Linked DNA regions of Homo sapiens. The protein of the gene in region 1 purifies or fractionates together with the protein of each later gene. This does not show direct contact. Each region holds a gene or a part of one and is shown on either strand. Other genes may lie near its edges.

Evidence for each region.
Region 2: the proteins of DPYSL5 (region 1) and LONRF2 purify together in Homo sapiens (affinity purification with mass spectrometry; 2 studies listed by BioGRID and IntAct, with this or other methods). This does not show direct contact.

Annotation. Positions count from the first base shown.
Region 1 is NC_000002.12:26,851,092-26,858,133, forward strand, and holds part of DPYSL5 (dihydropyrimidinase-related protein 5), read left to right. Parts: intron 1-7,042. UniProt on the Homo sapiens protein: Involved in the negative regulation of dendrite outgrowth.
Region 2 is NC_000002.12:100,312,462-100,319,503, reverse strand, and holds part of LONRF2 (LON peptidase N-terminal domain and RING finger protein 2), read left to right. Parts: intron 1-7,042.

The DNA.
Region 1 (7,042 bases):
GAAACCTAGAAATCTGACAGTGAAGGTTTTTTCTTGTAAGAGAGCTCCAATGGGAAACATGTTTTCATATTATTACCCAAAGGGAACAATTTCAGGAAGGAGTGTTTTGTTGGCTTCTTTTTTGTAATAATTTTATGGATTTTTAAAAGGATGTAATCTTCTTAAAGCACTCTGTGAACATCCATTGCAGTCTGTTCCTCATGGCAGGGAATCCATAGACAAGGAATGCCGGTATGACCAGCCTGACGTGAAGGCCTGGCTGTTGTCAGCGTAACCTCTCTAGGTGCAAACATTAGCAGGGTTGTTGCATTATTCTTAATGCTTCTATCTCTGGAAAGAGTTCCACAGCAAGGCAAGTTTACACAGTTGGCCAAAATCAGGTCTCAGGACTTGGCGTAAACTTCATTTGTGGCACTTCCACGTCTCTTCTCCTGCCATAGCTATCTGAGAATTTCCCCTTAATAGCTTCTCTGACCCAGGATTCTGTATGATCCTGCATTAGCTCCACGGGACTATAAGCCAAAGGACAGCATGACTATAGGCAGGTCTCTGGGGTAAAAGTAAATTGTGGCCAGGCACAGTGGATCACGCCTGTAATCCCAACACTTTGGGAGGCTGAGACAGGAGGATCACTTGAGGTCAGGAGTTCGAGACCAGCCTGGCCAACATGGTGAAACTCCATCTCTACTAAAAATACAAAAAAATTAGCCTGACGTGGTGGCGCACACCTGTAGTCCCAGCTACTTGGGAGGAGGCTGAGGTGGAGAATCACTTGAACCTGGGAGGCCGAGGTTGCAGTGAGCTGAGATCGTGCCACTGCACTCCAGCCTGGGCAACAGAGTGAGACTCTATCTCAAAAAAAAAAATGTGAATTGTGTGTTCAGATCATTTTCTTGGGGCATAGAAAAATATTGAGAGCCAGAGAAGTTGGACAAGAGTATCTGAGACCCAGTCTATCTTCCTGGTGTGAAAATTTACCAGTTTCTGATAGAATCTGATCTTGTGTATCTTTTTTGTTTTCTGAGGTATAAAAACATATTCCAGAAAAGTCTTCTAAGACTTAATTCACAGGAATCCTGTAGAACAAGATATCTTTGTCAACATGAAGTCCTGTAGGGAAAACTTGGTGTAATATGGGAGCAAATAAGAATAAATGTGTTTTATCATTTTTCCAATAAGCAGGTGTTTGATTTCATTGCACTGCTGGTGCATAAATGAGAAATAATTTCAAAATCGCTTTGCCTTGCTTTTTTTTATGTGAAGATGAAAGGTTGAAATACCATAACATGAATCTTTTGTGAGCTTTGGTATTTATGTATAAAAGTGGGCACAAATTATACACTTGAACAAAAGAAATTCAGGGAGGAACATGGTGTATGATTTGTTCTACTTCAGTCTTTGAAACTTGTTTCATTTAAAATAAGCTGATTTAACCATTGATTGAACCCGAGCTTGCCAAGCACTCCCATCAATCACAGCCCTGTTCTGTACTTGTTCCCTCGCCTCCCTCCTCCCTCGTCACAATCCAGGCTCAGCGGTAGCGTGTACAGGAGGGAGAGCCAGAAAGCCTGGGTTCAGATTTCACCTTGGCCACTTTCTGTTTATCTGTGCAATGAGGATGGTTGTATTAGGTTGGTGCAGAAGTAATTGCTGTTTTTGCCATTACTTTTAATGACAAAAACTGCCGTGACTTCTGCACCAACTTAACAGTATCTACATCTGGGGTTGTTCTGAGGCTTACATGTGTTAATGGTTAGCACTGAGAGCAGCATCTGGCATCTTGTAAGTGCTCAGTAAAAGTTATCATCACCATCAGCAGCAGCATCATATTCTCCCTCTAAAATGTGTGTCCACAAAAACAACACTTTGATTCCCCATTTAATCTTTCATCCCAAGGGGCCATGGCAAGTTGCTGTAGGGATTAACAGTGGGAACACAAGGAATGATTAGGACTCCTTTCTAAAACTCCCACCCTTGCAAATAGTAGGAATAGCTCTCTGTGGAGTCTGTTTCCTGGCAGCCTCTTTAAGCTCAGCTGTTTTTAGCAGCTGAGAACTTGGAGAATTAAGAGTGTTCCAGAAGTGCTGTGACCTCAGCTTTGCTGCATCATTCCTTTGAGTGGGGTTAGGCTGGCGTGGCTGGTGAGGAGCTGTTGTCCCAAGGCTATGTAATTCTTGGTGTGGGGAAGAGTCATCATGTTTGGTTGATGGCAAATTATTGGGAATAAAGAAAACTCAGGTTTTCCAGCTAAGAAATACAGAATTTTGTGCAACTTGGAACCACAGTTATTTATTTCACAAACACTTTCAAAGCACTCTGTGCCAGGGGTGGTTCTGATTACTATGCATTAGGTTACTGTTATTATCCTCATTTTACAAATGAGGCAACAAAAGTAAAAAGGACACCCAGATGGGGACATGGCAGAGCCAGGCCTTGAACTCAAGGGGTTTGATTACCATCTGTATCAGTTCTCCAGGATAACTGGAGTTCTCCAGAAAAACAGAAAATCAGTTCTCCAGAAAAACAAAACCAATAGGATTGGTTTATGCAATTGGAGAGGCTGGCAAGTCCCATATCTGTAGGGAAGGCTGGCAGACCGGAAACTAGGCAGGAGCTCATGGTGCACTCTTTACTTAGAATTTCTTCTTTCTCAGGGAAAACTCAGTTTTTCTCTTAAGGCCTTTTAACTAATCATATGAGGCCCACCCACATTATCAAGGAAAAATCTCCTTTCCTTAAAGTCAACCACCCAGCCTGGGAAACATAGGGAAACTCCATCTCTACAAAAGTTAAAAAAAATTAGCCAGGTGGGGTGGCACATGCCTGTGGTCCCAGCTACTTGAGAGGGTGATGTCAGAGGATTGCTTGGGCCTTGGAGGTCAAGGCTGCAGTGAGCTGTGATTACACCACTGCACTTCAGCCTGAGCAACAGAGCAAGACTCTCTCAAAAATTAAAAAAAAAATAAAGTCAACTGATTATAGATGTTAACCACATCTACAAAATACCTTCACAGCAACATTTAGATGAATCTTTTATTGGATAATGGTACTATAGCCTAGCAAAGTTGACACAAAGAACTAACTAGGCCAGGCACAGTAGCTCACACCTGTAATCCCAGCATTTTGGGAGGTCGAGGCAGGAAGATCACTTGAGGTCAGGAGTTCGAGACCAGCCTGGTCAATATGGCGAAACCCTGTCTCTACTAAAAATACAAAAATTAGCCAGGCATGGTGGCATATACCTGTAGCCCCAGCTACTCAGGAGGCTGAAGCACAAGAATCACTTGAACTGGGAAGGTGGAGGTTGCAGTGAGCCAAGATCACACCATTGCACTGTAGCCTGGGTGACAGAGTAAGACTGTTTCAAAAAAACAAAAAACCACAACAACAAAAAAAGAAAGAAACCCTAACCATAAAAGGATCCATGCCTTTAAACAGTACCTCAAGCTGAGAACCTTATGAGTTGGGTGTGAGATTCACAGTTAACTAAATAATTTAGCAATAGGCTATCCCATTACAAAATGCTGCACCTTACCTTGTTTAAAATAGAATTTGGACCTCTTTTCTCGTCCAGGTGGCTTCTAGCCCAGAATATTGCTCAGAGTAACCATTCAACAGATAATATTGAAAGAATGACTGAATGGTTTTAGGTGATATTTTACAGGATTTTCCAGCTACTGAGACCTCTGGCTCCCCATTTAAATTTTTTTTCTTTTTCTTTTTCTTTTTCTTTTCCTTTCTTTTTGAGATGGAGTCTTACTCTGTCGCCCATGCTGGAGTTCAGTGGTGCGATCTCTGCTCACTGCAACCTCTGCCTCCCGGTTCAAGCAATTCTCCTGCCTCAGCTTCCCGAGTAGCTGGAATTACAGGCATGCACCACCACACCCAGCTAATTTTTGTATTTTTAGTAGAGACGGGGTTTCACCATGTTGGCCAGGCTGGTCTGGAACTCTTGGCCTCAGGTGATCCGCCCGCCTCAGCTTCCCAAAGTGCTGGGATCACAGGCGTGAGCCACTGCGCCTGGCCTCCCTTTTAAATTAGAAATCATCTGGCCCATGCTGGGCGCGGTGGCTCATGCCTGAAATCCCAGCACTTTGGGAGCCTGAGGCGGGTGGGTCATAAAGTCAGGAGTTCGAGACCAGCCTGGTCAATATGGTGAAACCCCGTCTCTACTAAAAATACAAAAATTTAGCTGGGCGTGGTGGCAGGTGCCTGTAGTCCCAGCTACTCAGGAGGCTGAGGTAGAAGAATCGCTTGAACCCAGGAGGCAGAGGCTGCAGTGAGCCCAGATCGCGGCACTGCACTCCAGCCTGGGTGACAGAGCCAGACTCCATCTCAAAAAAAAAATCATCTGGCCCAAGTAAGATTGAGTTTTTGTGAATGACTAGATTCTTTTGGAAAGAAAGGAGAACTTCTGCATTCTGAATTGTGCACGTGTCACTCCCTACTACCTAACATCTGTCCACTTTCATTGGTTTGGCAAAGGGGTTGAGGTCTGTTGCTGCCTGGACTCCCTGTGAATGTGTGTCTCCCACATGTTAGTAGTGCCCGGTACTCAATCACACCATCTTTGTGTCACTCCAGTGTCCATTTCTAAGCTGCCCCTTTGTTGATTTCAAATCCGCCATGGGCTGACTCGAAATTCTCACGCCTTGGGTCTTTATTCTCCCTTCTTTTGTCTGGTCCTGTCCCTCCCTTTGTCCTTCTGCAGAGCAAGATCCACTATTGATACAGAAGCCGCCTCCTTTCTAATTTTTTACTTCGGATTTCTGACCTTGTAGATTGATATGTTTGTTCTGTTATAAAATTCAAAAACAACCCCCAATTTTTTCATTTAATATCTTTTTGCTCTTGTTTCCAGCATACGTGAAACACTTTCAACCTTAATGAAGTTACTTAAATTGTTTTAAGTTTGCCGTATTGTCAAGTGGCAATACACATACATGAAACAGTCACTTTTGGGGGGTACAGTGGCTGAGGGTGCATTTTAAAAAAAACTAGTAAAGTATAACAGATAAACTGAGAAGTGTACAAACCATAAGTGTATAGCTTGATGAGACATACCCATGTAATCTGCACCAAATTAAGAAACAGAAAATTGGAGTCTCTGAGCCTACTATGGCTCAGAAGCCTGCCTGATTCAAAATCTTATTATTTAAAAAAGGGAAAAAAAGAAAGAAACAGAATTATCAGTACTCAAGGAGAGTCTCTAGTTACTTAGTATTCTTCCTCCATATCCTGACTGCTTATACACAGATCAATCAGCTTTGCCTATTTTTGAATTTTTACAAATGGAATCATGTAGTGGATATTCTCTCACCAGGGGCTTCTTGTGCTCAAGGTTATATTTGCGAGATTTCTCTTACTGTTGTATCTAATTTGCTTATTTTTTTCATTGCTATATAGCATCCCATTGTATGTATGTACCAAATGTGTCAGTTATGTTGCTAATGGTATTTGGATAGTTTCCGGTTTGGGGCTTTCATGGACAGTGCTGCTGTGAACATTCTAGTAGGTGTTTCTGTTGGGTATATATATACCTAGGAGTGAAATTACTGGGTCAGGGATACACACATGTTCTGTTTTAGTAAATTGTGCCAAATGCTAAGATTAATGGAGAAATTAAAAAAAAAATCCTCTGAAGTATACAATGCAGCTGTTTAAACCAAAATCCTAAAGACTGGCACAATATTATGGCTGGATCAGAGGTTGACTTCCAACTCTTATTCTTCAGCAAAAAGTAGAACTTTAAGCTATATCTCTGACTCCACAGTAATCTATCAGTTAAAAAAATTATATATATTATATATACATATATAATATATGTAATAAATATTATATATGTATATATAATATATATTATACTAGTTTTCAAGAATTGTCCACAAATAACCAATTGATTGGCTGAAATGAACACTTTTAAACTAAGCGGTGTACGTCTACCTTAGTCTTGCTACTGCAGTTTTCTTAACTCATGTTTCTTGAGGAAAAGATGAAAATCATATTATAAATGCAACATTGGTCCAGATATCATTCCAGAGATGTCCTGACAGCCTTGGGCAAGATTAACAAGTGCTTTTTATTGTTAACTAATTTATATTTCTTGTATTGGGTCAAATAGCAATTTTGAATTGTGTGATTTCTGTGGCTTAAAAAAAGTCTCAGCCAGGCGTGGTGGCTCACGCCTGTAATCCCAGCACTTTTCGGGCACAAGGTGGACAGATCACCTGAGGTCAGGAGTTCGAGACCAGCCTGGCCAACATATAGCGAAACCCCGTCTCTACTAAAAAACACAAAACTTAGCTGGGCGTGGTGGTGCACACCAGTAGTTCCAGCTACTTGGGAAGCTGAGGCAGGAGAATCGCTTGAACCCGGGAGGTGGAGTTTGCAGTGAGCCGAGATTGCTCCACTGCCCTCCAGCCTGGGCGACAGAACAAGATTCTGTCTCAAAAAAAAAAAAGAAAAAAAATCCCACAAAAGTGTCAGCTTGGAATCACAGAGTTCAGATTTCTTATTTGGCCAGACAGGATATTGATTTCTAATAATGGCCAGAATTCTTATTTCTTATAATAATTTCAGATTTCCTATAATGGCCAGACAGGACACTGCCTTTTTTAAATTTAGAAATAGAATTATGACATGTATCTTATTTTCTGTAGGTTTCTGGAAAAACTTAAAATAGATGTGATTTTTACAGTTGGATTATAATGGAAAGAACCTCTGCAACTAATGAAAAAAGTAAAGATAAGGCACAACAATATGAGCACTAACCTTCAGCCTGTCGCATCTCATGTTCATGGCCAGTATCGTCATGTGGCCCAGGAGAGATGGCAGTGATGGGCATGGCCAGTGTGCATAAAGGACAGTGGTTGAGGCATAATTATAGGATGGTGGTAATGAAACACGAGCAGCCAGAGGAGCCTGCCAAGGCAGTCATGAACTCCTAACTTGGCTGGTTTTTGCCTTATGTGATCCATTCACAGCCCAAATTGTTCCTGAGAAAGATTTTTTTTAGCATGTGGTCTGCCATGTTTGGTATTTG
Region 2 (7,042 bases), about 73 Mb from region 1:
TGATTGTGAGGAAGTATGAGAGGGATCTGTGGGGTAGTGGTGATGTTCTGTTTCATGATTTAGGGGATGGATACACAAGTGTGTTCACTTTGCAATAGTTCATTGCACTATATACTTATATTTTTAGCTTTTCTGTATATATATTAGACCTAATTTAAACGTTTTTAAAATAGGCTATTTCAGTAAATTCATATGAGAACTTATATAGAATGTATTCATTTTTCTATTCAAAGATTAGCTTAAAATTTTATGAAAACATTTAATTTCAAAATAAATTAGCCCTTTTAAAGAGGTTTTGATATAGTTAAAAAAAAAGTTCACAGATGTTTGGAATCAGAAATACCTGTGTTTAGATCCAAGCTCTGACTTTTTTTTTTTTTTTTAAGACGGAGTCTTGCTCTGTCACCAGGCTGAAGTGTAGTGGCGTGGCTCTACAACCTCCGACTCCCTGGTTCAAGCAATTCTCCTGCCTCAGCCTCCCAAGTAGCTGGGATTACAGGCACGCACTACCATGCCCAGCTAATTTTTGTATTTTTAGTAGAGACAGGGTTTCACCATGTTGGCCAGGATGGTCTCAATCTCCTGACCTTGTGATCCGCCCGCCTCAGCCTCCCAAAGTGCTGGGATATCAGGTGTAAGCCACCATGCCTGGCCTTTTCTTTTTTTTTTTTTGAGACAAGGTCTCGCTCTGTCACCCAGGCTGGACTGCAGTGACATGATATCGGTCACTGCAACCTCTGCCTCCTGGGTTCAAGGGTGATTCTCGTGCCTCAGCCTCTCAGGTAACTGGGATTACAGGCATGCACCACCATGCCTCGTATTTTTTTTGTGTGTGTGTTTAGTAGAGACGTGTTTCACTATGTTGTCCGGGCTGATCTCCAACTCCTGTAGTCAAGTGATCTGCCCGCCTCAGCCTCCCAAAGTGCTGGGATTATAGACATGAGCCACCACACCTGATGTCTGATGCTTATTTATTATGTGACCTTAGCGAAGTGTGGTAGTCATTAGTGCTGGTCTATCTCTATACCTTCCCCAGGCAAGGTAGGATTGCACTTCCCGCTCCACTTGTGATTAGGTGGAGCCATGTGACTACTTTTGGCCGATAAGTTATGAGTGGAATTTAAAATAACTAGTACGTATGTTGAAAGAGGTAAATAAATGTATGAAAATATAAAGCATTCAGAAGACAATTGTCCATAAAAAAGAACCAAGTGGGTATCCTGGAAATTCAAAATACAATGTCTGAAGTTGAGAATTAGATTTGTTACAAACCAGATGGCACACATCAGAAATCTGAATGAGAAAACTCAGAAGCAAGTTAACAGAAAATATCCAAACTGAATCACAGAAGAAGACTAAAAGAGAGCATGGGAGTTATGTGAGACACAGACAAAAGTTCCAACATCGATGAAATTGGAATCCTGGAAGAAGAGAGAGGGGAAGGGCAAGAGAAATATTTAAAGAAAAAAGTAATTGAGAATTTTCCAAATCTGATGAGAAACTTTAAATCACTGAATCAAAAAGTTCACTAAGCCCAACAGGGTGGACACAAGTGCACACACAAACATACACACAAAACCCATCCAAGTACATTATAGTCAAGTTCCTGAAAATCAAAGATAAAGAGAATTTAAATGCATTTAGAGAAGACAGGACATATTTCCTTCGAAGGAATCATAGAAGACTGACAGTTGACTTTTAGACAAAATTATTGAAGCTAGAAGCTAATGGAATAATGTCTTTAAAGTGCTGAAAGAAAAAAAAAACCTAGCTGGAATTCTTTACCTGAAAATATTTTTCACAAAATCAAGGTGCTTTAAACCAAAGAAATAACTCAAGCTAAAGGATTTTATTACCATCAGAATTGCATTTCATGATATACTGAGGGAAAGTCTTCAGGCTAAAGGAAACGTATCCATATGGAAGCGTGAAACTAATGCACAGAGTAAAGAGTGCTAGAAGGTGTAACAATATGAGACAATATTGACTATTTCAAATAACAATAATAATGTCTTGTGGTATTTGTAACATACATAAAAGTGAAAGATATGGCAACAGGACAAAGCCAGAATGGGTAAATACAGTTAAATTGTTGTATGGTTTGTACACTGTTTTGGAGGTAGTAACAGTACCAATTTAAAGTAGACTGCTAAATCAGGTTTGCATATTCTGTTGTCTTGGGTAACCACCAATAGGAAGGTAAAATTAAAAAAAAGCTATAGTGGAATAGTAAAGTAATACTGGATTAATCCAAAAGAAAATGGGAGGGAAGAATAGAGAAGGAGAGAATAAGTGGGACAACTAGAAAAGAAATAGAAAAATGGGGATTTAATTTACATTAAATGTGAAGACCTAAATTTCCCATTTAAAAACTAAATGTTGGCAGATTGGATTAAGTGAAGTATAGCTACATGCTGTTTACACACGAGGTAAACTTTAGGTGTAAGAACACAAAAAAAGGTTAAAATTAGTAGGATGGCAACAAAGACTGACAAACAAAAGCCTGATATGGCAAAGTGACTATCAGATAAAGTATTCTTTAAGGCAAGGAATATCAGAAGAAATAAAGACATTTATGATGAATGGGCCAGTTCAACAGAAAAAAAATGTGTAATAATATGCCTAAATTTTTATGCACCTAACAACAAGTGTACACACACACATATGGAGAGAACAAAAGGAGACAAAAGCAAAAGGGGAAATAATTGGAGATGTTGAACAAAACTTTTAGTAACTGATAAAGTAAGGATTGCAAAATAAGTAAGGATATAGATACAACATACTTCAGCACTTAGATTTAATTAATATGTGTCACTACATACAACTACTGCAAAAACATAGCCATTTAGGCTCCCATGACCATAGGCAGAGCGTTGGAGTTGGCCTGTGGTTGTGTTTGCCAACTCCTGGATTAGGCCATGAAAGAAGTCGTAATAAATATTAAAAGATTGAAACCAGACTGTATATGTTCTTTAAACACTGTGGACTTAAACTAAAATTAAATAGCACATAAATAGAATATCTTCAGATATTTTGAAATTAAGCAATATATTTTTATATAATGATGGGTAAAATGAATCACAACATAAAGTAGAAAATTTTCTAATTATCTAATAATTATTAGAATTATTAGAATTTCTAATAATTATTAGAAAATTTTCTTTCTTTTTTTTTTTTTTTTTTTTGAGATGGAGTCTCGCTCTGTTGCCCAGGCTGGAGTGCAGTGGCACGATCTCAGCACGCTGCAAGCTCTGCCTCCCAGGTTCACATCATTCTCCTGCCTCAGCCTCCCCAGTAGCTGGGACTACAGGCACCTGCCACAACGCCTGGCTAATTTTTTGTATTTTTAGTAGAGACAGGGTTTCACTGTGTTAGCCAGGATGCTCTCGATCTCTGACCTCGTGATCTGCCCGCCTCTGCCTCCCAAAGTGCTGGGATTACAGGTGTGAGCCACCGCACCCGGCCAGAAAATTTTCTATTTTGCCTGAATGATAATGAAAATACAGATATCAAACACTGTGGGATGCAATGCAACAGTGCTTAGAGGGAAACTTACTGTTTTAAATGCCCATACTACCAAAGAACAGCTGATAGTCAGTGATCTTTAGGCTTCCATTTCAAGATGCTAGGAAAAGAAAAGCAAATAGAATCCAAAGAGAGTACAAAGAAGGAAATAAAGGAGCCAAAATCAGTAACAAGACAGGAAAAATACAGCCCAATGTTTCTTACGAATATAGTTGCAAAAATCCTAAATAAAATATTAGCAAACTGAATCCATTGATACCCTTAAAGAATATCACATCAGTAGCAAGCAGGTTAAGTTTTGTTTAATCCTGGAAAATCAAGCAATGTAATTCACCATCTTTACAGAAAAAAGAAAAATGATATGATGCATCTCTCAGGAAACTACGAATAAAAAGGAACTTTCTTAATTTTTTAAAAGTCTACAAAAATGAGATAGCAGCTATCATAATTAATGATGAAATAATGTTTTCCCATTGAATGAGAAGGTAACACTGTTTTATTCTCACTGCCACTCAGCATTTCACTGGAGATTCTAGATAGCTATGTATTAAGATTGGAAAAATAAAAGATAAAACAAAAAACTGTCATTATTTGTAGATGACCTGGCATACATAGAAACTCCAGAAGAATGTAGGAACTATTAGAAATTATAAATGATTTATCCAGATTGCTGACTACAAGGTCAATATAGAGGTTATCAAACATAACTATATACTTAGAAAAAACAAATAGGAAAAAAACTTTAAACAATTTATGTAAACAAATTCCTTGGAATAAATCCTGAAATAGCTGAAAGATGTTTAATACCTCTACACTGAAAATTTCATTTCAATACACTGAAAACATGAAACATTTCTGAGAGAAATTAAAGCAGACTTAAATGGATGGATATATCATTTTTTTTCATGGATTGCAAAACTCAGTATTGGCAAGACGTCAGTTCTCTGCTGATTGAATGGTAAATTCAGTGCAATCTCAGAGAAAATCCTAGCCAGTGTTTTTGGTGGAAATTGATGAATGGCCAAGGCAACAGTGAAGAAAAACAACAAAGCTGGAGGATTTACACTGGCAGATTCCAATACTTACTATAATGCTGCAGTAATTAGGACAGCATTGTATTGGCTTAAAAATAGACACATTGAAACTGACTCTCACATATACAGTCTCTTGATTTTCTGAAAGATGCTAATGGAATTCAATGGGGAAAAATTCAATGGGGAAAAAAGAGTCAGTTGCTTTTTTATATGGAAAAAAATAAACCTGAATACCTATCTCACATCATATAACAAAATTACAATTAAGTATCTAGGAGTCATAGGAGACTGTTTTCAAGGACTTGGGGTAGGCAGTTGTTTCTTAAATAAGACACAAAAAGCATAACAATAAAACTTCTGTTCCTCAGAGGCCCCCAAAAAAGTGAGAAGGGGATGAGTATACAAATATCTTACTGAGACCTCTAATGCAGAATAAATAATGCCTATGATTCAAAAAGAAAAAGCCAATCTGTCTAAACACAGTAAGTACTCACTTAACACCATTGATAGAAACAACTTTAGCTGAAACTACGTAATAGGCAAAGAGTTAAAAACTAGATCTCAAAGTGAGCAATTAACATCTAAAAGACTGCACAACATAATTAGTGCTCAAATGCAAATTAAAATGAAAGTAAGTTAGTACATCCCCACCAGAGTAGCTGAAATGAAAAGAACTGGCAATACTTAGTTTTTATTTGCAGCAATTGGAACTCTTAAATTACTGATGGAAGCATAAGTTTGTACAACAACTTAAGAAATGTGTTTGTTAGCACCTGCTAGAGCTAAACTCGTACAACCTCTGATGTGGCATTTCTACTTTTGAGTATATACTAGATAAAAATGAATGCTTATGTCCATCAAAATATGTGTACAGGAATGTTCATTGCAGCTTTATTTATATATGCCAGAAACATTTGGGGAACAGTTCAATTGTTCATCACTAGTAGAATGAGTAAATAAATCAAGTCATACAGTGTAATATTACACAGCAATTTTTAAATTTTTTAAAATATTAATTTAAAAATATTACTGAGACATATAACAATAAGAATGAATCTCACAGAATGATAATTTAGTGAGAAGTCAGATACAAAAAAGTACATTCCATTTATAAATATCCATTTATAGAAGTTAGAAAACAGGATAAAGTAATCCAAAGTGACAGAGGTGAGAATGGTGGTTACCTTTAGGAGGGGCACACTGAGTGGGATAGTGCACAAGGGAACCTTCTTAGGCCCTGGGAATGAACTACATGATGATGGCACGGGTACACATGCAAAGGTTGAGATATACACCTAAGATTTGTGGACTTGACTCTGTAATTACAGTCTTCCATCAATTTGAATAAATAGGCTTTGAGGAGTATTGCCACTTATTCTTTCTTTTCATAGAGAACACTACCCAGTTTTTATTGCTTTATGTGTCCATTTGTTTGTTTATTTATTTATTTGAAACTGGGTCTCACTCTGTCACCCAGACTAGAGTGCAGTGGGACAGTCTTGGCTCACTGCAACCTCCACCTCCCAGGTTCAAGCAATTCTCATGCCTCAGCCTCCCAAGTAGCTGGAATTACAGGCATGTTCCACCACACCTGACTAATTTTTTTACTTTTAGTAGAGATGGGGTCTCGCCATATTGGCCAGGCTGGTCTCAAACTTCTGACCTCAAGTGATCCGCCCACCTCGGCCTCCCAAAGTGTTGGGATTACAGGCGTGAGCCACCACGCCTGGCTCATTTAACTTGTGTAAAATAACATGTAATCCTCCATTTCTCACCACTGCACACATTTGATAGATTTTATAGCAGTAACCCTAGCTCCTAGTACAACAGTGGCTCTGGGTTGCTGTTGGAAAACAGCCTTTGGTCGACCCTAAACACAGTTGTGGTAGACATCTCTTCTTTTCCTCTCAAAGCCTGGGTCTTAGGCTGCCCTCTTATGACTTTTCCCCATAGAGGGGTTAATTGGTGAACCTACTGAAATGTTGCATCAATTCTTTGGAAAGTACATATGTACATTTTTCTTCCATATGTTTTCTCTACACAAAGACTTTTAATAATTTGCACTTCCTCTTCCACTTAGTTTTGAGGGATCCTTGGAGAACTCCTTTAGTTTTGTTGAGCCTAAGGTTTAATCCTTAGAAAATGTGTAAGCATTTATTTTATGTGTTTTAAAAGACTAAATTGTGAAGTGCTGTCCTCACAAATGTATCACCAAATGGTGGACGTCAACAAAGAAAACAGTGATTCATTCAGTGTCGAGATGAGAAGTGATTGTTTCTTGGCCTTTTGGCTAAGATCAAGTGTAGATGGGAAGTGAATTTTATGAAATTTGGAGTTCAGTTAAAGCACCCTTTAGAATGTGAGGAGTAGAGACTTAAATGTATTCATTAGAAAAGAATGATTAAAAATAAATGTAAATGAAATGTATTTTTAACACTAGAAACTTTATCAGGATTAATTAAGCTAACACAAAGATAGTATAA